Homo sapiens: one gene and its partners. The protein of the gene in region 1 interacts with the protein of each later gene in a pairwise test. Each region holds a gene or a part of one and is shown in the gene's direction. Other genes may lie near its edges. The genes, in order: SGF29, CCDC102B, PROSER3, TRAF3IP1, TFIP11, C20orf202 and CLHC1.

Region 1 (3,500 bases):
TTACGGTCATGAGCCACTGCACCCAGTTTGCAGATTCTCATTGCTAGTGACTGGGTTGAGAGTGTGGGATGTGAGTGTGGGGTATTAGGTTCCTCTTTCCCTTTGACCCAGAACAAAGCTCTTACTGTTTTAAGCCCTGTGGGATTAATCTTAGAGTGGCTTAAGTGTAGGATATTTGGATTTGTTTATTTGAGGCCTTTTATGCTATTATAGTAAAAGGGCCAGCAATTTTAGGCTGGGTATTAGTGGTTAACATATGCTTCTACCCTGCAGCCTTTGTCCCTCAGAATTGGCTATCTCTTCAGACCGTGCTTAATGAAAGTTCTTATTAGTCAAGCTACTCAGTTGCAGATAACAAAAAGCTACTCTGACTAGCCTAAGCTGAAAGGGGTGTTTGTTGACTCTGTGATATTGTAAAATATATATCTGGTTTGTATCCCAGTTTGGAGCTTCCTGGAGGGTGGCGTGCCCAGGGTGGGTATGGAAGCTCTTCGCTCCTTCCCACATGCTTTGCCCTGTGCACCTCTTCCTTCATCTGTATCCATTGTGACATCCTTTATAATAAGCCAGTAAACCTAAGTGTTTCCCTGAGTGCTGAGAGCTGCTCCTGCAAATTAATGGAACCCAAGGAGGGAGTCATGGAAACCCTGATTTATAGTCAGTTGGTCAGAAGCACAAATAAAGCAACTGGGGGCTTGTGACTGGCATTGAGAATTGGGGGGACATGCTCGTGGGACTGAGCCCTCAACCTGTGGGGTTTGACACTCTGTCTGGGTGGATAGTGTTGGAAATAAACTGAATTAGAGGACATCCAGCGTGTATCCACTGCAGACTCAATGGATTGATTGGTGTTGGGGAGAAATCTCCACACATTTGGCCACGGAAATCTTATGTGTTGATTATCCTATATTGTGACAGCAGAGGAGAAAGTTTTGTTTTTTCCTCACAGACTGTAGCTGAAGAGTCCTGGAGTAAATCAGTTTCAGATGGGACTCTATCCAGAAGCCTAAATTATGTCACCAGTATTTTCTGTTTTTCTTTCTCTGTTTTTTTTTTTTTTTTTTTTTTTTTTCAGAGACGGGGTCTTGCTGTGTTTCCCAGGCTGGTCTTGAACTCCAGGCCTCAAGAGATCCTCCTGCCTCAGCCTCCTGAAAGCTGGGACTACAGGAGTCCACCACCACACCTGGGTACTTTTTTTTTTTTTTGAAACGGAGTCTCGCTGTGTCGCCAGGCTGGAGTGCAGTGGTGCAGTCTCGACTCACTGCGACCTCCACCTCCCGGGTTCAAGTGATTCTCCTGCCTCAGCCTCCCAAGTAGCTGGGACTACAGGCATGCACCACCATGCCCAGCTAATTTTTTTTTTTTTTTGTATTTTTAGTAGAGATGGGGTTTCACCATGTTGGCCAGGCTGGTCTTGACCTCTTGACCTCATGATCCACCCGCCTTGGCCTTCCAAAGTGCTGGGATTACAGGTGTGAGCCACCACGCCTGGCTGCACACCTGGGTACTTTTTATTTTTGGTAGAGATAGAGCCTCGCTATGTTGACAAGTCTGGTCTCAAACTCCTGGGCTCAAGCAATCCTCTGTACTTGGCCTCCCAAGGTGTTGGGATTACAGGCATGAGCCACTGCGACCCGCCTGTTTATTGGTTTTGTTAAATGCCTTGTCATGAGGCATTAAAAAGCCCATGATGGAAAGAAGATAGCCCCAGAGAAGGGATTCCAAATTCTTCACAAATTCTTCAACAGATGAGTGGATTAAAAACGACATCTATCCATAGAATGGAATGTTATTTAACCATAAAAAGGAATGAAGTTACTGATACATGCTGTGACATTGATGACCTTTGGAAACATGCTAAGTGAAAGAAGCAAGTCACATAAGGTCACAGTACAATTCTATTTATATGAAATGTCTAGAATAGGCAAATCTACAAATATGAATTAGAATAATGGCTGCCAGTGACTGAGAGGAGAAGGGGGTGGGGAATGACTGCTAATGAGTATAAGGTTTTAAGGAGAGTTGGTGAAAATGTTCTAAAATTAGATAGTGGTGATATTTGCACAACCTTGTGACTAACATAACACTGAATTGCACACTTTAAAAAAGTGAATTGGGGTGGGTGCGGTGGCTCACATTTTTAATCCCAGCACATTTTGGGAGGCTGAAGCAGGAAGATTGCTTGAGCCCAGTAGTTTGAGACCAGCCTGAGCAATATGATGAGACCTCATCTCAACAGAAAATTATAAAATTAGCTGGGCGTGGTGGTGCACACCTGTAGTCCCAGCCACTTGGGAGGCTGGGGCAGGAGGATTGACTGAGCCAAAGAAGTCAAGGCTGCAGTGAGCTGTAATTACACCACTTCACTCCAGCCTGGGCAATGAGAGTGAGACCCTGTCTCAAATAAGTAGATAGAGAGATAGAGAATTGTATGGCATGCGAATTATCTTCATTAAGCTGTTTTTGTTGTTGTTGTTGTTTTGAGACGGAATCTCACTCTGTCACCCAGACTGGAGTGCAGTGGTGCGATTTTGGCTCACTTTAACCTCCGCCTCCCGGATTCAAGCGATTCTTGTGCCTCAGCTTCTCAAGTAGCTGGGATTACAGGTGTGTGCCACCACACCCAGCTAATCTTTGTACTTTTTTAGTAGAGACAGTGTTGGCCAGGCTGGTCTCGAATTCCTGGCCTCAAGTGATCTGCCCACCTTGGCCTCCAAAAGTGCTGGGATTACAGGTGTGAGCCACCGCACCCGGCCCATTAAGCTGTTATTTTAAAAAGTCTGCCTAAACCTCTGAACTAGACAAACATGGGGCATATTCCAAGCAACTTAGCCAAGTTTAAAAGATCAGTACAGATTTCAGCTGATGCTTGCCTCAGGGAAGCTAGATTTGGAGTTTGAGTTCAGCTGTGATTAACTGCATGTTAACAGAAACAAAACACCAAACTCTCAAGAACATAACAGAATCCAGAGTCTACAACACATCATCTACAATGTCCAGGATATAATCCAAAATTCTTAGACACAAGAAATGGCCTGGGCATGGTGTCTTATGCCTGTAAACCCAGCACAGCACTTTGGGAGGCTGAGGCAGGCAGATCACTTGAGGACAGGAGTTTGAGACCAGCCTGGCCAACATAGCAGAACCCCTTCTCTACTAAAAGTACAAAAAAATTAGCTAGGCGTGGTGGTACACAGGAGGCTCAGGAGGCTAAGGCACAAGAATTGTTTGAACCCAGGAAGTGGAGGTTGAGCTGAGATCGTGCCACCACTCCAGCCTGGGCAACAGAGCAAGACTCTGACTCAAAAAAAAAAACCACGAAAATTTTAAAATATATTTTTACAAAACAGGAAAATATGATCTGTGTTCACAAAAAAAGGCAATGAATGGGCCCGGCACAGTGGCTCACGCCTGTAATCCCAGCACTTTGGGAGGCTGAGGTGGGTGGATCACGAGGTCAGGAGTTCGAGACCAGCCTGACCAACATGGTGAAACCCCAT
Region 2 (3,500 bases), on another chromosome or scaffold:
AATTTTTATCCTTTTGAGATATTTTTAAAATGCCTCATACTCTAATCATCCTAAATAGTTTGCAAGGAATTTTGAGTAGTTGACCCTCTTCTGTCCCTACAATACCACAAATATGGTATTTGTGCTATTGTATTTATGGTATTATATGTATGGTATCATACTAATTTTACTAGTAAGAAAACTTAATAAGATAATAAATTTCTTGTCCAGAATTAGACAATGAGTAAATGGTGGGACCAGGATGAGATTCTAATAGATTTTCTACTGTAAAGAGTTACTCTGCTGTATAGATTTATGCAATAAATTACATTGATGTCTCGATATCCATATGCCTAAATATATGAGAGAAACATACATTTAAAAAATTTATATTACCACAGTGTTTCTCCTTTAAGTGTTACATTGCTAGACAAAGTGCTTTCTAATTACTTTGATTAATTTCACTTCTCACAAACCTTGTCAGATTAAATAAGTTGTCTACATTGGGGTAGATGAAGTTACCTGACTAAGCTTATCCAGAGAATAAATGGTGAAGTCACATTAGAATGCATAGCTCAGGACTATAATTTAGAGACAAAAAAGCTACTATTCACTTCTACTTACAATGTCCACAGAAAAATTATAGCAGACGAATATAATTTCATCTCATAATAATAAGCACTTAGATGTAATAAAACTGCAGAAAATAAATACATTTGATATTGCCTCTTTAAAACTTAAAGACATTAAAATAACAAAAACCAAAGGAGATATTAAAATTATCTTAAATCAGAATTTCTAGAGTAGGCTTCTGGTCATTGATAGTAATAAAAATCTCCTCATGTTGATATACCATGCAGCCTTGGTTGAGAACCATGGGAAGAGGGCAGAGGTTGACAAAACTTTAGTGTAAAGGACCACAAAGTAACTATTTTGGGCTTTACTACCTATATGGTCTCTCTCTCAACAGCTTAACTTACCCATTGTGTGTGAAGGCAGTTATAGGCAAAGTGTGAAGAAATGAGCGTGGCCATGTCCCAATACGATTTTATTTGTGGTATAGTTTGAATTTTATATAATTTAATGTTGAAAATGTTTTAATGTAAAATTTTAAAATATAAAATGATAAATTATATATATTTTTTCAATATAAAATTAAATTACTTTTTGCATTACTTTTTGGCAACTGCAAATGTTGCATAGATAGAGAGATAGAGAGATAGAGATAGAGAGATCCATATAGCATCTGTCTATTCCCTAGATAATTGAGTGAATGAATAAATGAAATATATCCAATCAAAATTGCCCATGAAATGATATTGTGTCTTCTCCACTGAGAATGTTTATCAGTTGAGAGTGGAGATTAATGTTCCCAAGAGCAGCAGTTCTTCACTTGACACATATATTTGAAAAATATGGTACATATGGCTGTAGAGATAGTTACATGAACCAAGAGGAAAAGTATATTTATCTACGGTTTGGCCTGATCTTAGGATTTTTGTATTTTTCTCATGTTTTCAAACAAATAGAATTTTCTTTTTAAAATTGTATCAGTGGACATATCCATGAACTTTTCTTAATGGGAGTCTGGTTGTGGGTGGCATTATCTTTTGGCAATTGCAAATGCTGCATGCTGCTTCTTTGTGTTTTCTGTGTGTAGCTAGAGAGATTGCAAGCTGAAAATACCTCGGAGTGGGACAAGAGGGAAATACTTGAAAGAGAAAAGCAGGGACTGGAGAGAGAAAATAGAAGGCTGAAGATCCAGGTGAAAGAAATGGAAGAGCTTTTGGATAAGAAAAATAGATTAAGTGCAAACTCTCAAAGTCCTGATTTCAAGATGTCACAAATTGATCTGCAAGAAAAAAACCAGGTATGGGTGCTCCTTGGAGCAAATTCTCACTGTCTAATCTCACTCTGATGCCTACGCAGAGTCTGTCTTCACTCGTACACGCCTCCACATTTGGATATTTCCTTTTGTGCCAGCTAATACCTGATACTCCTTGCTCTTTTGCCCACTAGGATGTAAAATAACGTTCATGCATCTGAAACAAAGTGTGTCAAATGTTAAAATATGACAAATCTTCAGACAGTTTCAAGATTTCCAAAAGGAAGAAGAAAAATGAAGTAAGAAATAGAACTTTCTGGTTTTTTGTTTCTTATTAAAGCTTTGTCTCAGTATTTTCTAAGCTAATGATCTTATTTCCAATAAAGATTTTTTCATTAATTCAAGCGACTATACAATAAGCATTTGCTGGTAGCTATGGTAAGTATCTGCATAAACATTTAAATTTAGCTGAAACTCACTGCTTTCTGGTTCTTTTTTGTCAGTTTCAGAACGATTATTTTTGAGCTAATGAAATGCATAATTTTTCAAATAATTTTTCCAGCCTGTGGTATAAATCTTAAAACCAGGATAACATTCAGAATTTAAATTTGGGAAATTTAATTTTGGATGTGTTTTATCCCCAAGCCAGTAGATATAGTTTATGCTATAGACGGACATTTTTTTGATAGTTTACAGATTTTTAAATGTGCTTTTAATGGCAGTCTTATAGTTTTAATGTGGGTTCGTGTCAATGTGCTGTAAATTATATTTACCTTGTTTCTATTTTTCAATTATATATAGCATCTTAATGCACAATTCTATTTCTCACTCAGTTTCTTTAACAGTTTTAAAAGGTGAATTTGATAAGTTCATAGTTTTGAGATATTTAAGTCATTCATACTCACATAAGCTCTAAAACCTAAATGGCCAGAAAAATTGAATTCCATATTATTTCATCATTCTTTCATGAATCTAGGGATTTATTGCAAATGCAAGATTAAATTGTATTAGTGTTTCATGACCTAGCAATGCAAATATCTAAAGTTAAATGTTATAGTCCGTGACCATAATTTTCTATTATATTGATTCATAAACTATCCATAATAATGTATTTGATTCTGACATATGTACACTGATAAATCTGTAGACATCTTATTTTGGAGATCTCTACTCTAAAAAGTGCAGAATTATCTCAATTATGGACTGTGGTTTGATTATAGAAATACTTTTTATTTGATTTATTCAAACAAGACAAACATTTATTCGTATTATTCTCTGTGTCAGTCACTGTTCTATATGCAGGTAATGAGAATATTAATCAATGAATCATTATCCCCACCCAGCATGGGCTTAGAGTCTATATAGGGAGTCAAACACACAAATTTTTATAAATAAAACATTATAGTGATTGCTAAGAATAAAGTGGAAGGGGACACAGATTAAGAAGCAATTGATTATATTTGATTTTGGCACCTTTCTAGTTGTATCAAAATGTATTAATATAAAGTATATCTTTCGGGAAAAATTGAGACCTGTTTGGAGCTGGCATTGGCGTAACCTGTCATCAGGGCACACCGAGTCCAGACCTGGTCTCTTTGACAATGTAGTTATTTGGGCTGGGACTAAGCAGAACTTGGAAACTGAGAGGATCCTCAAAGGTCTAAGTCAGTGGGTATGCTGATCACTTAGAAGACTG
Region 3 (4,251 bases), on another chromosome or scaffold:
ACATTCTCTCACATGTTCCCACCCCAGGCTGCCCCAGACCCCTGGCAATGGAAGTGGTCGAGTTCACCCCTCCCCAGGCCTGGCACCTGGGCGACGGGCAGCGCCACGCTGGGTGCGCGCAGGTAGTAGGGGGCGAGCGTGGTGGGGCAGAGCGCAGCCAGCTCGGCCTCCAGCAGCCCCTCGCCGAAGCGCTGGTCAAAGAGGCGTCCGGGCGCCGAAAGTCCGGGCAACGGGGCCGAGGCGCGGCGCAGCCAAGACGGCTGCACAGGCACAGGGATCTCCATCCTGCTCCTCCGCGTTGCAGTGCCCCTGCGTGCGCAGCCGCTCATTTATAGTGCGCCCTGTGCCGGCCCCTCGGAGGGCTGCCCAGGGACACTGGGACCGTGGCCAGACCCGGCCATTAGGAGAGCCTTATTTAGAAACCCAAACAATGACTTGGCCATTTATTAAGCGCCTGCTGGATGCCTGGCAAATGCTGTCAAGAAGGTGACATGAAGATTCCCCAATTTCCAGAAGAGGAAACTAAGGCTGAGGAGGGGGAGCCTTGCGGGTGTGGGGAGCACAGCGTGGTGATTGGGGCCCAGGACCCAAGAGGCCCACGGAAGAGTTTCCAGTCCCTTTAATCCACTGCCTCCCCCCTGGCAGCTCTGAGGATGACGCAGATGGAGGTCTTTAGGAGCAGATTCCTGGAGAATGCGGTAGCCCCGCCAGGATGTCAGGAGGACATAGAACAGGCCCTCCCTACCCTTATCCTCAGCCAGACCTTGGGCCCAGTCCCCCGGCAGGCCGGGCCTAATTCTGTGCCTCTGACTCAGCCTCTGGTGCGCAGAGGCCAGGGGGCGCGAGCATGAACAGTTCAGGCTGGCCCCCCGGGGGCCGCGCGCTGGGGCTGGAAATAGCTCATTTTGATCCCGCTACCTCGGCCAGGAGCCCAGACCTGGCAACTGATGCAACCAGCTGCTCCTGCAGCAAGAAAGAAGTTAGATGACCGTTGGGACGGACTGATTGGCCCAACTGATGGAGGAATAGCGGTTAGAGAGAGGGCAGAGCGCGCCCCCCCCCCAACCCGCCCCACTGCCCCTGCAACAGAAAGAATGGTAGTTAGACCGGGGTCGGGACAGGACTTCTGCAGCAAGAAGGCGCTTAAAAAGCGGGACTTTTAAGCGAGGGTACTTTAGATCACCTCCTAACCGCAAGCCCAGCCTCAGATCCTTCCCATTGGTGCACGGTCTTGCCAATTACTGCTACACTCGGCAGGTTCTCCAATCAAACACGCCCTGTCGGGCAGGCAGTCGTCCCAGCCAATCCTGAAACACCTCCCTCCGGGTACTTCTGTTTCCTCTCTTTCATTGGTCGCCTTGGAGGCCGCTCGCCTCCGGCGCGGGCACAGAGAGGGGCGGGGCTGATAGGGCGTTGCTAAGCGACGGAGATGCGCGCGGGGCCTGTTGGGTGAAGGAGCAGAGCGGCCGGAAGCGCGGAGGGAGCCGCGGGATGGACCGCAGGTGAGGCCGATCGCTCTTCCAGGGACTACAGGAGGCTGGGGAGGACCAACGGCGAGAGCAGCACAGCCTAGGACGGGCTGGATACGGTCTGGAGTCGCTAGGGCTCCACCGCACTGGAACTACAATTCCCAACATGCTCCACAGCCGTTGGCCTCTCCAGCCGTAGCCGTTAGCATCCCGGGGGTCCCCTAAGAGTCTTATGTTCCTCTCTGAGTGGGCCCCAAGGAATTATTGCCTCTAAAGGTGTCCAAGAAAGGCTTGAGATCTGAATTTCTTCATTTTGAAATGGCCCCCAGACACGCCTGGGCGTTGTCTTTGAACTTTCTCGCGGAGGCGGAGCCCAGTGGATCCTGGGGCTTGTAGTCCATCTACCCTTTGCCTTCGTGTCCCCCAGGAATGTATGGGAAATGCTCGGTGATATAATCCAGCCGCGGTTCTTTCTTTCTTTCTTTTTTTTTAAGACAGAGTCTCTCGCTCTGTTGGCCCAGACTGGAGTGCAGTGGCACAATCTTGGCTACTGCAACCTCTGCCCCCGGGTTAAAGCAATTCTCATGCCTCAGCCTCCCAGGTAGCTGGGACTACAGGCACCTGCCACCGCGCCTGGCTAATTTTTTATATTTTTAGTAGAGACGGGGTTTCGCCATGTTAGTAAGGCTGGTCTCGAACACCTGACCTCAAGTGATCCACCCGCCTCGGTGTAATCCCAAAGTGCTGGGATTACAGGCGTGAGCCACCACGCCCGGCGAGCCGCGATTCTTAACCTGAACTCCACTTCGCAATCACCTGGGACGCTGCGGAAAAGACACGGAGGCCCAGCCCCACTAATAGATATTCTGATTCTGTTGGTCTGGAATGGGAACCGCGCGCCTGTAACGTTGAAAAGCCCCTCCTAGACTGGATCCAGGGTTGAGAACCACCGGCTGTCAGTTCCTGAGTTGCTCCCTGTTAAGACTGCTCCAGGGGCGGGCTCCCAGGACTCACCCTTCCACTGTCGATATCCTGAATGTGCAACGGTGCTTCATGGAAATGACAGTCCGTCTCCTCCAGGAATCTATGGGAATTGTCTGGTTCTGCCCTCCTCTAATGTCCCCCTCCCCAGGGCTGCGGCGAAACCACGTGCTGCCTGAACCCCACTTTCCTCTTGCAGCCTGCCAGTTTTCTCCATTCAAGATAGTCCCTTTGGAGATGCGCCCCTGGGTCGAAGCCACTACTGGCCATCCCAGAGCCAGACCTGGTGTCCCAAGGTGAGGACACCCCTCAAAGAGTGCTGAGTGCCAGCCCAGTAGCAAGAGAATGACCTTTAGAGGGTAGGAAGACATGTGATGAGAGATAGGGATGAGAGATTTAAGAGACAGCCCCTTGTCCCCTCCCCACGGCCCTGCCCTTGTCCCCCTCTCTACCACCTGGATTCCCCATCTGAGCCCCCATCACACTAGGTTGTTATCATTACAGGATGTGTTTCCTCCCCTCTGGACTGAGACTTTGTGTGTGTCCTGGTTCCCCTGCAGGGATGACCCATGAGACCTCACACTTTTTCTTCTTGTGCTCTTCCCTGATCTTAGACCCTGAGCCCATCCAGGTCTCAGAGATCCAGGCTCCCACAAGCTCCCAAGGCTCTAGCCACAGGTCCCAACTCCCCTGAGCTGTTTGAGGAGTCCTGGCCATCCAGTTCAGGGACCCCCTCCCTGCCCAGCACCACTGAGGGACAGATGTGGGCCTCCCCAGCACCCACCCTGATTGACAGCGGGGACTCCGTGGTGGCCAAGTAAGTACCAGCAGCCCTGGGGGAAAAAGAGGCTTTGGGTTAGAGGGAGGGAGAAGGCATGCAGTAATAATCATCATGGCCAGAGCTGTTTCTGCAGCACTCTTTTAGGACCAGGCAGTTTATGTGTGTTAAGAACTCTGGTGCTAGACTGCCTGAGTTCAAATCCCAGCTCTGTCATTTAACTCTCTGTATGATCTTGGCCTCAGTTTCTTTATCTCTTTTTATTTATTTATTTATTTGTTTAGAGACAGGGTCTCGCTCTGTTACTCAGGCTGGAGGTCAGTGGTACAATCACAGCTCACTATAACCTCAAACTCCTGGGCTCAAGCCGTCCTCCCACCTCAGCCTCCTGAGTTGCTGGGATTACGATGCATGCCACCACACCCAGCAAACCTCCCACCTTGGCCTCCAAAAAGTGCTGTGATTACAGGCCAGACGTACCATGCCCAGCCTCAGTTTATTTATCTCTAAATTGGGTGTTTTGTTTTGTTTTGTTTTTGTTTTTGTTTTTTTGATGGAGTTTCACTCTTGTTGCCCAAGTTGGAATGCAGTGGCATGATCTCGGCTTACTGCAACCTCTCCCTTCTGGGTTCAAGTGATTCTCCTGCCTCAGCCTCCCAAGTAGCTGGGATTACAGGTGCCCACCACCACACCTGGTTAATTTTGTGTATTTTTAGTAGAGATGGGGTTTCACCATGTTGGCCAGGCTGGTCTCAAACTCCTGACCTCAGGTGATCCACCTGCCTCAGCCTCCCAAAGTTCTGGGATTACAGGTGTGAGCCACTGCCAGGCCTAAATTGGGCATATTAATAGTACACATCCCCTAGGGCTGTTTTGAGCTTTCAGTGAGTTACTATATATAATGATCTCTAGCAGTGCTTCTCACATAGTCACCACTTAGATTTGTAGAATACAGGTTCAGCTGCTGTAACAAAGAGTCCCAAATTAATTATGGCTGAAACAAGATAGAATTTATTCCTCCCT
Region 4 (3,500 bases), on another chromosome or scaffold:
GACAGAGAGGGCCTGCCGATCACGGCAGGCACAGGGGCGCAGGTGTTGAGGAGGTGGATCGTGGGCCACAGTGAGGGTGTGCTGGGAGCGTGAGAGACGAGGGACGGGAGCCTGGACTTCCTGGTACTGACAGAGCAGCGGGTTCGAAGTGAGGTTGGTCCTGGCGGAGCCACACAGGTGGTTGTTGAGTGTCTCAAGGACCCAGTTGAGGAAGTCGAGGATGTTTGGGGCAATGGGTGTTATTTTCAGAGGTCGTTCCCAAGTGTCTACATTCCCTCTGGACCTTGTGCATGGCACTGAAGCAAGGGAGGATTTTGGTGTGTGTGTGTGTGTGTGTGTGTGTGTGTGTGCGCGCGCGCGCGTGTGCGTGCATGTGCTTGTGTGTATGCGTGTGTGTGTGTGTGTGTGTGTATGCATGTGCACGCATGCAGCACTGCGATAACGGGGCAGGGGGAGTTAGGTGATTGCTTAAAGCACAAGTGTGTAGGGAAGAAACAAAGGCAGGAGGGGCCATTAAGGAGCCTGTAGAGTGTTTGGGTCGGGGGCTCACATTTGTACAGAGTGAGCTGACAGTGGCCTGAGTGAGGAGGAGTGGGGCAGCTGTAGGTGGGGCAGTTCTAGTAGGTGGCCCTGGAGAGCATGAGAGAGCCCTTGGGTGAAGGCTGTCACCAAGGAGGACAAGGTCTGGGGCTGGAGGGCCAGGCTGTTGGACGCTGACTTGCCCAGAATGATGTGGACTTGGGTGGAGCGCAGTGTGTACGTGGTGCTGAGCGGGACATAGGGCAGCCACTGTGACTAGGAGTTGAATGAGGGGCCTCCAGCTGGCTGTGTGAAGAGAGGTCTGGGGTCAGCCCTGGTCAGTGGGACCCCAATGTGGCCCCTGCCCTGAGGTTTGTGACCCAGGGCAATAAGCGCCTCCAGGTAGAAAGCAGCAGGTGAAGGGCTGGTGTCACTGAGAGCGCAGTCAGGGGAGAGGCGGAGGCCCTGAGGGTCTTTGTGCAGTAGAGGGCATGACGAGGCTGTGGGGACGGGAGGCCAGGTGTGGACCAGGAGGCCTGGGCAGCACAGGGACGTGGGGAAGCTGGGTGGGGGTGGAGGGCGAGGCTCACAGGGACTCAGGCCTGGAGGGCTTGCAGAGGACACTGTTTGCAGACAGTCCATCTTAGCTTCAGCGGGTAGCTTGAGATGCTGTTCTAGCTAGAGATGGTTGGTGATTAGATTCCTCTCTGCCGACCTCTGACACAGTTTCAGATGCTTGGGACTGATGAAAATGTGTAATTCTAATTTAATCTAATTTCTTTTTATTTAGGTCAGGGAGTGGTAAAACCGTTTCAAATGTGATTACAGAGTCACACAATTCTGACAATGAAGAGGATGATCAATTTGTGGTGGAAGCTGCCCCTCAGCTCTCTGAAATGTCAGAAATTGAAATGGTTAGTTAACCGAAATATGATGTTTTTTAATAATAATGTTTTACCTTCATTGAGATTAATAGTCTAGCTTTTAGATTTATGTAGACAAAAATGTCCTGTAATTTTTCAGTTAGTTTTCTACCTTCGTTAATTTTGTTGTTCTTTTTTTGAGATCCACAGAAGCATGATCTTTAAAATTCAACAAGCCTGAATCTTCTTTTTCCCCCTTCCTTTCCTGCTCAGGTAACAGCAGTGGAACTAGAAGAAGAGGAGAAGCATGGTGAGTCCTGGGCACGAGTGTGCATGTATGTCCATGTGTGTGTGCTCATGCACCTTCTCCACGTGGGCCTGGAAGGATCCAGTGCAAGGGACTGTTGTGTGCCAGGTTCTGGTCTGGGTCACACTGGCGGGATCACACTGGTGGTACATAGGACCCTGCGGGCATGGATTACTCTTAAGGCGATGGCTGCTGCTCCCCATCCTTAGAGGAGGGGGAGGGCACAGTTGGAAGCTGGAAACTCACTGGCAACTGTCCTGCAGATGACATCTCGTCTCTTCCGTACGATTAAATTGTGGAAGTAGATGATCTCTGAGGCCCTTTGCAAGTCTAGTTCTGGAATGTTATTGTTGGTTTTCTAGCTGGACAACTCAGTAGTGCAAACCCCGTTCCCCACACCAGGGTTTGAGTATCCTGGAACACAGTTTCTGCAGAAGAGGCAGGCTGAGTACTTTCCTTTATAGATCTGTTCTCACAATATGACTTTGTTTCCTGGCACCTATCACAGGTGAGTAACGAGGGCTTGTTGGTTTTGGGGGTTTGGGGTTTTTTTTGGTATCTATATGAAGCCACCCTTTTTTATTTGAGGCGGAGTCTTGCCCTGTCACCCAGGCTGGAGTTCAGTGGTGCTATCTCAACTTACTGCAACCTCTGCCTCCCGGGTTGAAGTGATTCTCGTGCCTCAGCCTCACAAGTAGCTGGGACTACAGGCGTGCACCACTATGCCTGGCCAATTTTTGTATTTTTAGTAGAGACAGGTTTTCGCTACGTTGGCCAGGCTGGTCTCCAATTTCTAACCTCAAGTGATCCACCCGCCTTGGCCTCCCAAAGTGCTGGGATTACAGGCATGGGCCACTGTGCCCAGCCTAGTCACGGATTTTTAACATAGTGGATGTGTTTCATTTCAGCCCATCTCAGTTTTTCTTATTAATGTTCAGATTGCCCAGTATTTGACCAGGGGAGCCTATTGGAGTTATTTTCTGGGGGCCTTTAGACACATCCCAGTACACTCTTTAGCTTCCTTGTTTTCTGATACGACAAGGTGTTTCCAGCTTATTTTGTGTACTTCCTGCCCCATAACTGCCTCATTTCTCCAAGGCACCTGGCCGCTTACTGCTCTGGGTTGCTTCTTGTTTCCAGGCATTTTCACTGCAAAAGCAGGGATATACTTTTTTAAAATAAGAAAGTATATTCTGACTTAGTGATGATATTTCCAATTCCGATTTAGGATTGTAGGGTTTTGCCTGCATTCTTTGGTTTTATATATGCATCTCTTCCATCTCATGCCAAAAAGCCTGGCTCCCAGCAGCAGCGGCTGTCCCCATGCTTTATGATCCTTCATATGCTCACATAGCAATTTTAGAACACCACGACTGGTTTTTAACAACAATAGGATTACTGGAAACGCTGAAGGATTTTATTTTATTTTATTTTATTTATTTTTATTTATGTATTTATTTTTGACATGGAGTCTCGCCCTGTCGCCCAGGCTGGAGTGCAGTGGCGCGATCTTGGCTCACTGCAACCTCTGCCTCCCGGGGTCAAAAGATTCTCCTGCCTCAGCCTCCTGAGTAACTGGGATTACAGGCGCCCACCACCACACCCAGTTATTTTTTTGTATTTTTAGTAGAGACGGGGTTTCACCATGTTGGCCAGGCTGGTCTCGAACTCCTGACCTTGTGATCGGCCCCCTTGGCCTCCCAAAGCGCTGGTATTACAGGTGTGAGCCACCAAGCCCAGCCCAAGGACTTTTTTTTTTTTGGTAGGTATGTCTGCCTGTTTGTTGGGTATATCCTATTAGGGATGTACAG
Region 5 (3,500 bases), on another chromosome or scaffold:
GAAATAGGCATTAACAACTCAGACGATCAAACTTGTGACTGTGATGCAGGACATGAGGGACATGAGGACATGAGGGAGAACACATTTTAGGGCATTTCATCTATTCTGAGAGGTCAAGGAAGATTTCTGTGGAGAAAAGTGACCCTTAAGCTGATATGACTGACAGTAGAAGGTAACTAGGGTGGTAGAAGAGGTCCCAATATGCAAAGGCCCTTGATGGGAAGCATCACGGTATCCACAAGGATATGAAAGGCTTGGGGGCTGGAGCAGAGAGGGGGAAGGGTAGCATAGTGTGTGTGATAGAGAGGGTGTGATGTGGGGCTGGGTTATGTTTTGAGAAGACCCTTTTGCTGGTGTGCTCAATAGGCATGGAGCCACAGTGGAAGACTGTGAGGAGGCCAAGCCAGTGGTCCCTGCACAGGTAGTGGAGGACTGGTCTAGGATAGTGGTGGGCAATGAGGATTCAGGCTGCACGTCTTCTCCCCAGCACAAGGTTATGTGTGCCCTGGCTGAACCTCACTCAACCAGGGTGTGCCAGGTTGGGGGTTTTTTCCTCCATGGCCTCACCTGTGGCCTCTAGGCTCTATCCTATTGAGAGTGTGCCTTTTTCTTTTTCTTTTTTTTTTTTTTGAGATGAAGTCTTGCTCTGTCGCCAGGCTGGAGTACAGTGGTGCAATCTTGGCTCACTGCAACCTCTGCCTCCTGGATTCAAGTGATTCTCCTGCCTCAGCCTCCCGAGTAGCTGGGACTACAGGCATGTGCCATCACACCCAGCTAATTTTTGTATTTTTAGTAGAGACGGGGTTTCACCATGTTGGCCAGGATCTCTTGACCTTGTCATCCGCCTGCCTCGGCCTCCGAAAGTGCTGGGATTACAGGCGTGAGCCACCACACCCAGCTGAGAATGTGCCTTTTTCAAAGGAGGCTGGGGGAGAAAGAGTATAGAGATTAGTCCAAACTTCTCATCCACAAGGAAGTCTGAAAGTGGATGACAAATAGATCAGGGAACAAGAATTGCATAATCATAAGATAATAATAATAGCTAACATCTCTTGGCTGCTTACTTGTCCTGGCTATTTCATAAACCTGGATTAATTTTCCTTATGAGAAAGGTACCATTATTGTCCCCATTTTACAGATTAAGAGACTGAGGCTAATGGTCATACAACTAGGCAGAGGCTAAGCTAGAATTGGAACCTGGACCTATCTGACTCTAGAGTTTGGGATCTAAATCACTAAGTTATATTACAATTTTAGGAAAAAACTCCCTAAATTCTGTTGTTGCCCTGAGGGTGTTGAATTACTAGGTTGGTCATTTTACAAGGCATCCCTTTATTTGCTGTATTCCCAGGTTTTCTTTTTTTCTTTGAAACACAGTCTCTATTACCCAAGCTGGAGTGTGCAGTGGCGTGACCTTAGCTCACTGCACCCTCTGTCTCCTGGGTTCAAGCGTTTCTCATGCGTCAGCCTCCTGAGTGGCGTGGGATTACAGGCGTGTGCCACCACACTCAGCTAGTTTTTTGTATTTTTATTAGAGATAGGATTTTGCTATGTTGGCCCAGCTGGTCTTGAACTCCTGGCCTCAAGCCTCCCAAAGTGCTGAGATTATGGGCATGAGCCGCTGTACCTGGCTCCAGGGTTTTTTATTGTAATTTTTTCTTTTTTAAACCACACAGTACAAATATATCAATTTTATTTTATACAAAAAAGACCTGAGGTTAATGGCTTAATGTAAGTACTTGAAGCAGTCAGAGTTTAAATCAATATATTTCATTTTATAGAGTTAATTTCTTATTTCTTAGGGGACTTTAGTGTAATTTTCTTTTCTTTTTTTTTTTTTTTTGGAGATAAGGTCTCACTCTTTTGCCCAGGCTGGGGTGCAGTGACATGATTATAGTTCACCGCAGCTTCAACTTCCTGGGCTCAAGCAATCCTCCCATCTCAGCTTCCCATGTAGTTAGGACCACAGGCTTGCACAACCATGCCTGGCTAATTTTTATTTATTTTTTTTTTATAGAGACGAAGTCTCACCATGTTGCCCTGGCTGGAAATTTTCACATTCAAATAAATTTAATGGCTAGGAGCTTTTTCTAAGTTTGATTAATATAATTGTTACATGCTTTACATTCATATAATCTTTCAATGGGTTTTATTTATGATTTTCCATCAAAATTTCTGCTCCTGTTGGATTTTTGTACTTGAAATAGTTTTCAAAACAATTGCTTTTTATGATAAATTAATTTTTTAAAATGTAGGAAAATTGTATTATCACATCATATTTTGAATTTGTAATCAACCCTACATTGATGTGATAACTCTTCAGCCGTAGAGGGATATGTCAGGTAAAATGTTAAATGTGACTACAGGAAGCCAAATCTGGGGTCCTTTGGATTTTTTGACACATTAAAAAATGTGTTACTTTTTTAAAAAACCTCCCATGAGATTCACTCTAAGGAGTCTTCAAGCACGTAGTTTCTGCAAAAGGATCGCTGCAGAGAAAAGAGTTCTTTACCGACCTGGTGGGGCTTTGTTTCTGTGCCTACAGGGCCCGTGACTACTCTGCGCCAGTCAACTTCATCAGCGCAGGGCTCAAGAAAGGGGCAGCGGAGGAGGCAGAGTTGGAAGATTCTGATGACGAAGAGAAACCTGTTAAGCAGGACGACTTTCCTAAGGATTTTGGACCAAGGAAGCTAAAAACGGTAGTCTCTATTGCAGGATTGTGACCCTAGGAATATCCTTCAAAGGTCATTGTGGCCCAAGCATTTTCTAGCCAGGGAGAAACTCATCTGGAATGAATTTCGTGAGTGTCTCCTTTTGGTGGCAGGTTTCTGTGAGTTGTGAAGTGTGTAGTGCAGTCTCTTCCTTCCTGACACGTTATCACACACATTTTTGGTTCATATGACACTTTTCATAGTGCTGTATAACTTAGGCCATTTTCCTGTTGGCCAAGCTTTCTTAGATTTTTCTTCATTTTGTTTTTCCATTAACTAAGCTTTGATTTTTCTTTTTTGCAGGGTGGCAATTTTAAGCCCAGCCAGAAAGGTTTTGCAGGAGGAACCAAATCTTTCATGGACTTCGGCAGCTGGGAAAGACACACAAAAGGAATTGGACAGAAGCTTCTTCAGAAGATGGGCTACGTCCCTGGACGGGGCCTCGGGAAGAATGCACAAGGTATTGCACCTTTGTCGTCTTGCATGATGGAGGAGGGCAGGCATAGGGAAGGAGAGGGGCGTTGGGAGAGGAGGTTTGCTTTTCCCTTTTAAAAGCACTTTATCTCTCCAGCCTGGTTTGCCAGCACAAGACATTTGCGTTCCTAAGCTACCTTGCTTTATCAAAGCTCAAGTTAAATAAGTAATTGTTTCAACAGCAAGGAAAGGGTTAGGGTCTAAAACAGGCTGCAAACAGGTTGAAAACAGGCTTTTTTTCTGGTCCTGACCAGTGCTTCTAAAAACAAAAATGAGGCTGGGTGTGGTGGCTCATACCTGTAATCCCAGCACTTT
Region 6 (4,020 bases), on another chromosome or scaffold:
TGAGGATGAGACCCACTGGGCTGCATTCCCAGATGGTTAAGGCATTCTAAGTCACAGGATGAGATCAACACAAGATACAGGTCGTAAAGACCTTGCTGATAAAACAATTGCAGTAAAGAAAGTGGCTAAATCTCACCAAAACCAAGATGGCCACAAGAGTGACCTCTGGTCATCCTCACTGCTACACTCCCACCAGCGCCATGACAGGTTACAGATGCGATGACAACATCAGGAAGTTACCCTATATGGTCTAAAAAGGGGAGACATGAATAATCTACCCCTTGTTTAGCAGATCATCAAAAAATAACCATAAAAATGGGCAACCAGCAGCCCTCAAGGCTGCTTTATCTATGGAGTAGCCATTCTTTTATTCCTTTACTTTCCTAATAAACTTGCTTTCATTTTACTGTATGGACTCCCCCTGAATTCTTTATTGCATGAGATCCAAGAACCCTCCCTTGGGGTCTGGGTTGGGACCCCTTTCCTATAACAATGGGAAGAATAAATGGTGTGTCAGGACTGTGTTTGCCTGCAAGTAGCAGAGTGTTCCATTAGACATCGGGTCTGTTTTCTCATATAGATGCTGTTGCCGAGTCAGGGGTGCAATGATTTCTAATGGCTCTGTGATTTTCTTGGGCTTTGTCTTATGGTCGCAAGACAGTTACCATAGCTCCAGACATTACATCCACATTCAAGGCAGAAGGAAAAGGGAGAAAGTAGGAGTAAAAGGGAAGCAGCAGTGACATTTTCCCTTTTGTTAGGAAGGTAAAAGTTTTTCTGGAAGCCTAACAGCAAATTGCTGCTTTGATCTCATTTGCTGGAAATGGGTCACATGGGGATTCCAGAAACAAGGAAACTTGGAAAGTGAGCATTTCCTTTATCTGGACTCTATAGATAAGTAAATGAGGACAGGGACTTGGGACACCCGTGGAGGTATATGCCAAATGAGACATATACATAGTTTATATGTAAAGCACAAAGCAAACCCTTAGAAAAGAGTGCCTATTTTCATAATAACCATATTGTTGCCATTTAAAGCTTTGCATTCTCTGTGATCCTGTTGGCATCACATATTCTTGGCTTCTGGAACAGCAGGCTCCAAGGTACTCGGACCCATAATGGTCTCCCTCCCTTCCTCCTTGTTCTGTTCAGAGCACTAAAGCCCTTTAAAAAAAAAAAAAAAGCCAGATTACATTTTTCAATGTGAGCTACTTCCTGCTCTCATTAACTCCATCTTCAGTGATTTGGCCAGAACCTGCTGCCAGTCTGAAAGAGTTGGGGGAATGTACAAGTCAAAGATCCCTCGGGCCCAGAACCAGGTCAGTGTCAAGGTCACTCCTAAGAACACTGAGATGAAAATAGCAGAAGAGCCCAGCCCGAGTCTTGGGCAGACCTTGGAGTGGCTGAGAAAGGAGCTGGTAAGGTTTTGCATTGCTTTTCCTTGATGCCCCGACTACATATTTTCCAAAGATCTCTGGTTTTCCTTCCCGGGTCCCCCCTGGGGCAGAGGCTGCAGGCTACGGTATGGACCCTGCAGTCTCCCCTCTGGGACCTACCACACAATGCACAATTGTGATCTCAGGTTCAGGGATAAGTAGGTCGTGGCCTATATGGGAGGTGCTGGGTGTGGTGCTGGCCAGACTGGTTTTAGAATGACACTGAGTCCTCCGTGTGTGCTGAGTCCTCTGTGTGGCTCTAGCAGGGGATTTATCTCTTTGAGCCTCAGTTTCCTTATCACAAAATGGGAATAACAATAGTACCAATATCATATGGGGTATTGTAAGGATTCACTGAAGAGATGCTTGTAATCCTCTTAATGAATACTTGGCACCGTGGTGCTGGCTATTATAACCCTGACCCAGATGGACATGCGTACACCCAATGTCTTAGCCTGGGTCCCCTAGAAAGCAGAGGCTTGGACAAGGATTGAGAAACTAGCACTTTATTTGGAAGTACAAGCCAAGGGTGGTGATAGGGAGGAACATAGGGTGTGGCAGCAGAGGCCAATGCTATGCCAGGCAATTACGCCAGACATTGTATTACCAAGCAGCCTACGGCTTCAGAAGTTGCCTTAAGGAGGCCCAGTGGGTGTCTCAGCAGCTGAGATGCTCTGCAGGGGTTGAAGGAGGAACTGCACATTGGGGGAGAGAGAACGAGAGGAAATTCATCTGCCCAGCTCGTTCCTGTCTCTCATTTCCCATTGGCAAGGGCCTCCCCCATGGAGCACTAACTCTCCTGACCCGATGTTATGTTACTTGGTCCTGTGGTTGCTGCTCAGGAAGCCAGGCTTATGCCTTTCATTATGGTATTTTCTCCAAGTCCGAAAAAAGAGGGGTGCCCCCAAGTGTGTGGGGACACCAGCCAGGAGAGAGGAGGCAGCTCAGGGAACCTCAGAAGAGGTTTGTTTCTCAATATACACACCTCTCATCCTGGGGAGAGACAGACAGGATTGTCCAAAAATGACCTTTCTGGGTTGCCAGGCAACAGGCCAGCTGGGACCCAACCCTGTCATCACCCCAGAGGAAGGGCTGACCCAGTAGGGTTTCTCATGGGACCAGGGAATTCCAGCAGCAGGGACTGCAGCTTCCCACAGTCAGCAGGCATCCAGCACTGGGCAGCTGTCTTCCTTATGCTCCCTGAAACTGTGGGTGCCTGGATGCCTCATCACCACCTCCGTGCTGGGAACCCCACTGTGGTCTTGTAGGCGCATACCCAGAAATATGTGCAGGAGGAAAACCCTAAAATCGAGAAAACACAGAGTGAATGTTTTCTGAGGAATTAGGAAAAAATGGGCCCAGGACCACTCGCTCTGCAGCCTGAGTCGTCCCAGTGTTCTGAGGGAGGCCGACTACACCTTTGCTTCACGTCTTTCCTTTTTTTTTTTTTTTTTGAGATGAAGCCTCACTCTGTCGCCCAGGCTGGAGTGTAGTGGCACGATCTCGGCTCACTACAACCTCCGCCTCCTGGGTTCAAGTGATTCCCCTGCCTCGGCCTCCCTAGTAGCTGGGATTACAGGCGCATGCCACCACGGCTGGCTAATTTTTTTGTATTTTTAGTAGAGACCGGGTTTCACCATGTTGGCCAGGCTGGTCTTGAACTCCTGACCTCAGGCAATCTGCCCACCTCGGCCTCTCAAAGTGCTGGGATTACAGGTGGGAGCCACTGGGCCTGGCCTCACATCTCTCTTTCTAGCTACATATTCTCTTGGCAGTGTTACTCATGCTTGAGTAGAGGATGCAGACTTGGTCTTCTTACTTGTAATCAGCTTGTCACAAAAATGAAAACACTATTTTTAGTGGGGAAATAATGTTCATAAGTATCTCTTGCAAAGAGAGACAGAGAAAGAGAGAGGCTGAGAATCTGTATATCTAACCATGTGTTGCCCCGACCAGCTTTGGAAGGAAAAACAGAAGCATTTGCAGTGGCTGCCTCTGGAGAAGGACGCTTGAGTTGAGGGATAAAGTGAGGTGGGTGGGAGAGACTTTTAAATATATGTCCTTTTGTAGCTTTTAAATTTTCTATCATGTGTTAAGAATTACTTAGTCAAAAAATAGAATTTTAACATTTTTAAAGAGAAAGCGAACTTTGGGAGCTGAGTTGAGAGGATCGCGTGAGCCCAGGAGTCTGAGACCAGCCTGGGCAACATGGCAAGACATTGCCTCTACAAAAAATAGCCGGGCATGGTGGTGTGCACCTGGAGTCCCAGCTACTCGGGAGGCTGAGGTGGGAGGATCAGTTGAACCCAGGAGCTCGAGGCTGCAGTGAGCCGTTATTGCACCACTGCACTCCAGCCTGGGCAACACAGTGAGACCCCGCCTCAAAAATAAATAAATAAATAAATAAACAGAAAGAAAAAGAGAGAAAATGTATGGGAAAAAATTCTCAGGAAAAAATGGGAGAAAGAATGGAGATGGCTGAAGATGACAGGAGAGTTCTAATGCAGCAGTTCTCAAACTTTTGGGTCTTAGGAACCCTTTATGCCCCAAAAAATTATTAAGGCCACCAAAAAGCTTTTGTTTA
Region 7 (3,500 bases), on another chromosome or scaffold:
AAATACAAACATTTAATAAGCCAGATAGTCCTGGAAATATACAGTTTTAAAGATAGATTTAGCAGATATACTAGAACATACTACATATATGATTTTTAAAAATAACTTATTTGTGAGATATATATATATATATTTTTTTTTGAGATGGAGTCTCACTCTGTTGCCAGGCTGGAGTGCAGTGCTGCGATCTTGGCTCACTGCAAGCTCTGCCTCCTGGGTTCACACCATTCTCCTGCCTCAGCCTCCCAAGTAGCTGGGACTACAGGTGCCCGCCACTACGCCCGGCTAACTTTTTGTATTTTTGGTAGAGACAGGGTTTCACCGTGTTAGCCAGGATGGTCTTGATCTCCTGATCTTGTGATCTGCCCGCCTCAGCCTCTCAAAGTGCTGGGATTGCAGATGTGAGCCACCGCACCCAGCCTGTGATATATAATGTTTTGAACTGTAATATAAGCATCAGAAATGAAGAATTTCTAATTTATTTCAAAATTTTAAAACACAATTGAACAGTAATCTGAGATTACAATTGAACGGTAATCTGAGAGAACTGTGGACCTTAGGGTGACCCTAGTTGGAAGAGCAGAGCTCTTATTCTGGATCTAGTTTGGCAATAACTGTAAGTACAGGCATTGCTGACATCTCCCCATCCCCCAGGCCAGTGCCTGTCCTGATTTGCAGGCTATGTATCCCAGTTCTAAGAAGATGCAAAATGGAACCAAACATGGCCATTTTTAGGTCACATTATTCCAGGAAAAAGGAGTTTTAGTAGTTGTTGAATCTGGTCATTTTCAAGCAATTAATTGACTTTTTCTTAGAATCTATGTTGTTGTTTTTTTAAGTTACAAATTTCTTCATTAATAACAGCATGCCCTATACTATTATTGTAATAATAGCTAGGCTTTTTTTCATGGATTATCTCACTTAATCCTTATGTTGACTCTATGAGGTAGGTTTTGTTATTGTCCCATTTTATAGATGCAAAAATAGTATGTTTCCACAGAGAGGCTGAGGCACAGCTAGAGCTAAGTGATTTGGTTATGTAGTGACAGGACAGAATCTGGCATAGTAGGTATTAATTAATATTCCATTACCTAAGTATACAGTTTCAGTTTCTGTGTTGTTAACTATTATTTTTCCATATGTAAGAATTATATTAGTTAATGTTTAGACATGGGATATAGATTTTAATTACTCTTAGAATTTAAAAATTTTAGGGATGGGTCTGTAGTCCCAGCCACTCAGGAGGCTGAGATGGGAAGATCGCTTGAGCCCAGGAGTTCTAGGCTGCAGTGAGCTGTGATTGTGGCACTGCATTCCTGCCTGGGCATCAGAGTGAGACCTTATCCAATAATAATAATAATAATAATAATAATAATTTTTTAAAAAATAAAATGGATTTTGAAATGTAGTAAGAAAAAGGGAGACGAGGAGTTCAAGAGTAGCCTGGAGCAACATAGTGGGACCCCATCTCTATATATTAAATACATTTTAAAAACCCAAGGCTTTCAGAGTTCAAATTATGTTTCGGGTAGTCCTTGAAAGGCTCTCAGAAGTTATTCTGAAAATTACCTCTATTGTGGCCGCAAAATAATATTTTTACTTTAAAATATTTAGGAAGTTAATACCAAGTTTATAAATTTGAGAGTATAGAGTGGGGCATGCCTGTAATCTCAGCTACTGGGAAGGCTGAGGCGGGAGACTGCGTGAGCCCAGGAGTTTGAGGATACAGTACACAATCATTATGCCTATGGTGAGCCATGCACTCCAGCCTGGGCCACACAGTGAGACTTTGTTTTGAAAAAATTTAAGAATACAAATCATAATTGTAGCTTTAGATTACCTCAATGGTTAACTATTGGGTTAACCCAATAGAGATTAACCCATATGGAATTGTTCTTTTTGTGGCCAAATATAGGAAACTTCATATGGTTCCACCTCTGGCTACTTGAAATAGCTACTGGCTTCTTAAAGTTTTCATTTTTGAATTTCTAAATGCTTGATAGTTTTAGGAAAAAAATTACTGAGTTGCTTTTTCTGTGCAAGGCACAGAAAGAAAGACATTATACTCACCAGAATTTGGTCCAAATATGAGCAACAAGATATAGACAAACAAACTGTAGTATTAGATGGAGACCTCTAATACTACACTTTTCAGATGTGAAAACTGAGTTCCAAAAGAGTAAGTGACTGATGGAGCTATGATTAGAATTCAGGTTTCCTAGTAGCCAATCTGTATTTTTATTATACCACATTTTTTTCATTATAATTATTTGATTATGTTTTGGATACTCTTATGGGTAGTTTTCCTTTGTTTTTTGCTATGCTGAGCATGATTTTTTTTGACGGGGGCTAGGGGATAGTACCGTTGAGTTTAGGTTGGAGTGGGTCATTGAGGGCTTTGAAAGGATTAGAAAAACTGTTGATTGGCAGGTATAGACATTAGCTAGTCCTAGTTTCTAGTTGATTTATGATATTAGGACATTGAGATAAACTTTTTCATTTTTGCCTTCAGATGACCTGTTGCAGCTATTAATGTCATGTCCCCAAGTTGAATTAATTCAGTGTCTCACTAAAGAGTTGAATGAGAAACAACCATCTTTATCTTTTGGTCTTGCTATACTTCATCTGTTCTCTGCAGACATGAAAAAAGTTGGCATTAAGCTACTTCAAGAAATCAATAAAGGTGGGATAGGTAAGTAGAATAAAATGTTGTGGGAGAAATAGTAGTGGGTTATCTAGGGAGAGGTTCAAGATGGTTATGCATGAGTTAACTCAAATTTCCCTAAGAGTTCCTTCTTAGCAAGAGTTAACTTTAGGAGTTTATAAATGTAAAGATTGCCATGTAAATAATAATCTATTGGTAATAGGATATATTTCTTGAGAGAATTAGAATGAAGGGAGTATCTTTATGAAGCTTGAGGGGAATATTACAATAATTATGATCACTAACACTAAAAACTTTGTATATATTGACATATGTGTATATTTAGCTTTTATATGTATTTTAAATGTTATGTAGATATAAACTATATGTTTTAATTCCTAAACCAAATGTATGTGTATTTACATATGTTATTCACTCTGAACCTAACTCTGCTGTGAATTAGAGAATAACTAATTAGGCTGGGTGCAGTGGCTCACCCCTGTAATCCCAGCACTTTGGGGGGCTGAGGCGGGTGGATCGCTTGAGCTCAGGAGTTCAAGACCAGCCAGGGCAACATGGCAAAACCGTGTCTCTATGAAAAAGATACCAAAATTAGCCACATGTGGCATGCACCTGTAGTCCCAGCTACTTGAGAGGATGAGGTGGAAGGATCGCCTGAGCCCAGGGAGCTCAAGGCTACAGTGAGCCGTGACTGTGCCACTGCACTCCAGCCTGGGTGAGACACTGCCTCAAAAAAAATGAGAGAGAGAATAATTAAAACTCACTTTTATTTTCTTTTCATTAATTTAATATAGGAAGTTGAACAGACAACTTCATTTTAAATTACTTGAAAACA

What was found.
Region 2: the proteins of SGF29 (region 1) and CCDC102B interact in binary tests that used the Homo sapiens proteins (3 or more experiments, as listed by UniProt).
Region 3: the proteins of SGF29 (region 1) and PROSER3 interact in binary tests that used the Homo sapiens proteins (3 or more experiments, as listed by UniProt).
Region 4: the proteins of SGF29 (region 1) and TRAF3IP1 interact in binary tests that used the Homo sapiens proteins (3 or more experiments, as listed by UniProt).
Region 5: the proteins of SGF29 (region 1) and TFIP11 interact in binary tests that used the Homo sapiens proteins (3 or more experiments, as listed by UniProt).
Region 6: the proteins of SGF29 (region 1) and C20orf202 interact in binary tests that used the Homo sapiens proteins (3 or more experiments, as listed by UniProt).
Region 7: the proteins of SGF29 (region 1) and CLHC1 interact in binary tests that used the Homo sapiens proteins (3 or more experiments, as listed by UniProt).

What each region holds. Positions count from the first base shown.
Region 1 is NC_000016.10:28,556,920-28,560,419, forward strand, and holds part of SGF29 (SAGA-associated factor 29), read left to right. Parts: intron 1-3,500. UniProt on the Homo sapiens protein: Chromatin reader component of some histone acetyltransferase (HAT) SAGA-type complexes like the TFTC-HAT, ATAC or STAGA complexes.
Region 2 is NC_000018.10:68,895,580-68,899,079, forward strand, and holds part of CCDC102B (coiled-coil domain-containing protein 102B), read left to right. Parts: intron 1-1,639; coding exon 1,640-1,849; intron 1,850-3,500. UniProt on the Homo sapiens protein: During interphase, forms fibers at the proximal ends of centrioles to maintain centrosome cohesion. During mitosis, dissociates from the centrosome following phosphorylation to allow centrosome separation. Contributes to CROCC/rootletin filament formation.
Region 3 is NC_000019.10:35,756,725-35,760,975, forward strand, and holds the start of PROSER3 (proline and serine-rich protein 3), read left to right. Parts: upstream 1-1,451; 5' UTR 1,452-1,491; coding exon 1,492-1,502; intron 1,503-2,601; exon of another isoform or gene 2,602-2,649; coding exon 2,650-2,746; intron 2,747-3,064; coding exon 3,065-3,267; intron 3,268-4,251. Other genes in the region: HSPB6 (heat shock protein beta-6), read right to left, coding at 87-284.
Region 4 is NC_000002.12:238,351,518-238,355,017, forward strand, and holds part of TRAF3IP1 (TRAF3-interacting protein 1), read left to right. Parts: intron 1-1,309; coding exon 1,310-1,433; intron 1,434-1,655; coding exon 1,656-1,692; intron 1,693-3,500.
Region 5 is NC_000022.11:26,505,974-26,509,473, reverse strand, and holds part of TFIP11 (tuftelin-interacting protein 11), read left to right. Parts: intron 1-2,545; coding exon 2,546-2,699; intron 2,700-3,014; coding exon 3,015-3,171; intron 3,172-3,500. UniProt on the Homo sapiens protein: Involved in pre-mRNA splicing, specifically in spliceosome disassembly during late-stage splicing events. Intron turnover seems to proceed through reactions in two lariat-intron associated complexes termed Intron Large (IL) and Intron Small (IS).
Region 6 is NC_000020.11:1,202,234-1,206,253, forward strand, and holds the start of C20orf202 (uncharacterized protein C20orf202), read left to right. Parts: upstream 1-1,220; 5' UTR 1,221-1,352; coding exon 1,353-1,418; intron 1,419-4,020.
Region 7 is NC_000002.12:55,176,794-55,180,293, reverse strand, and holds part of CLHC1 (clathrin heavy chain linker domain-containing protein 1), read left to right. Parts: intron 1-2,512; coding exon 2,513-2,692; intron 2,693-3,500.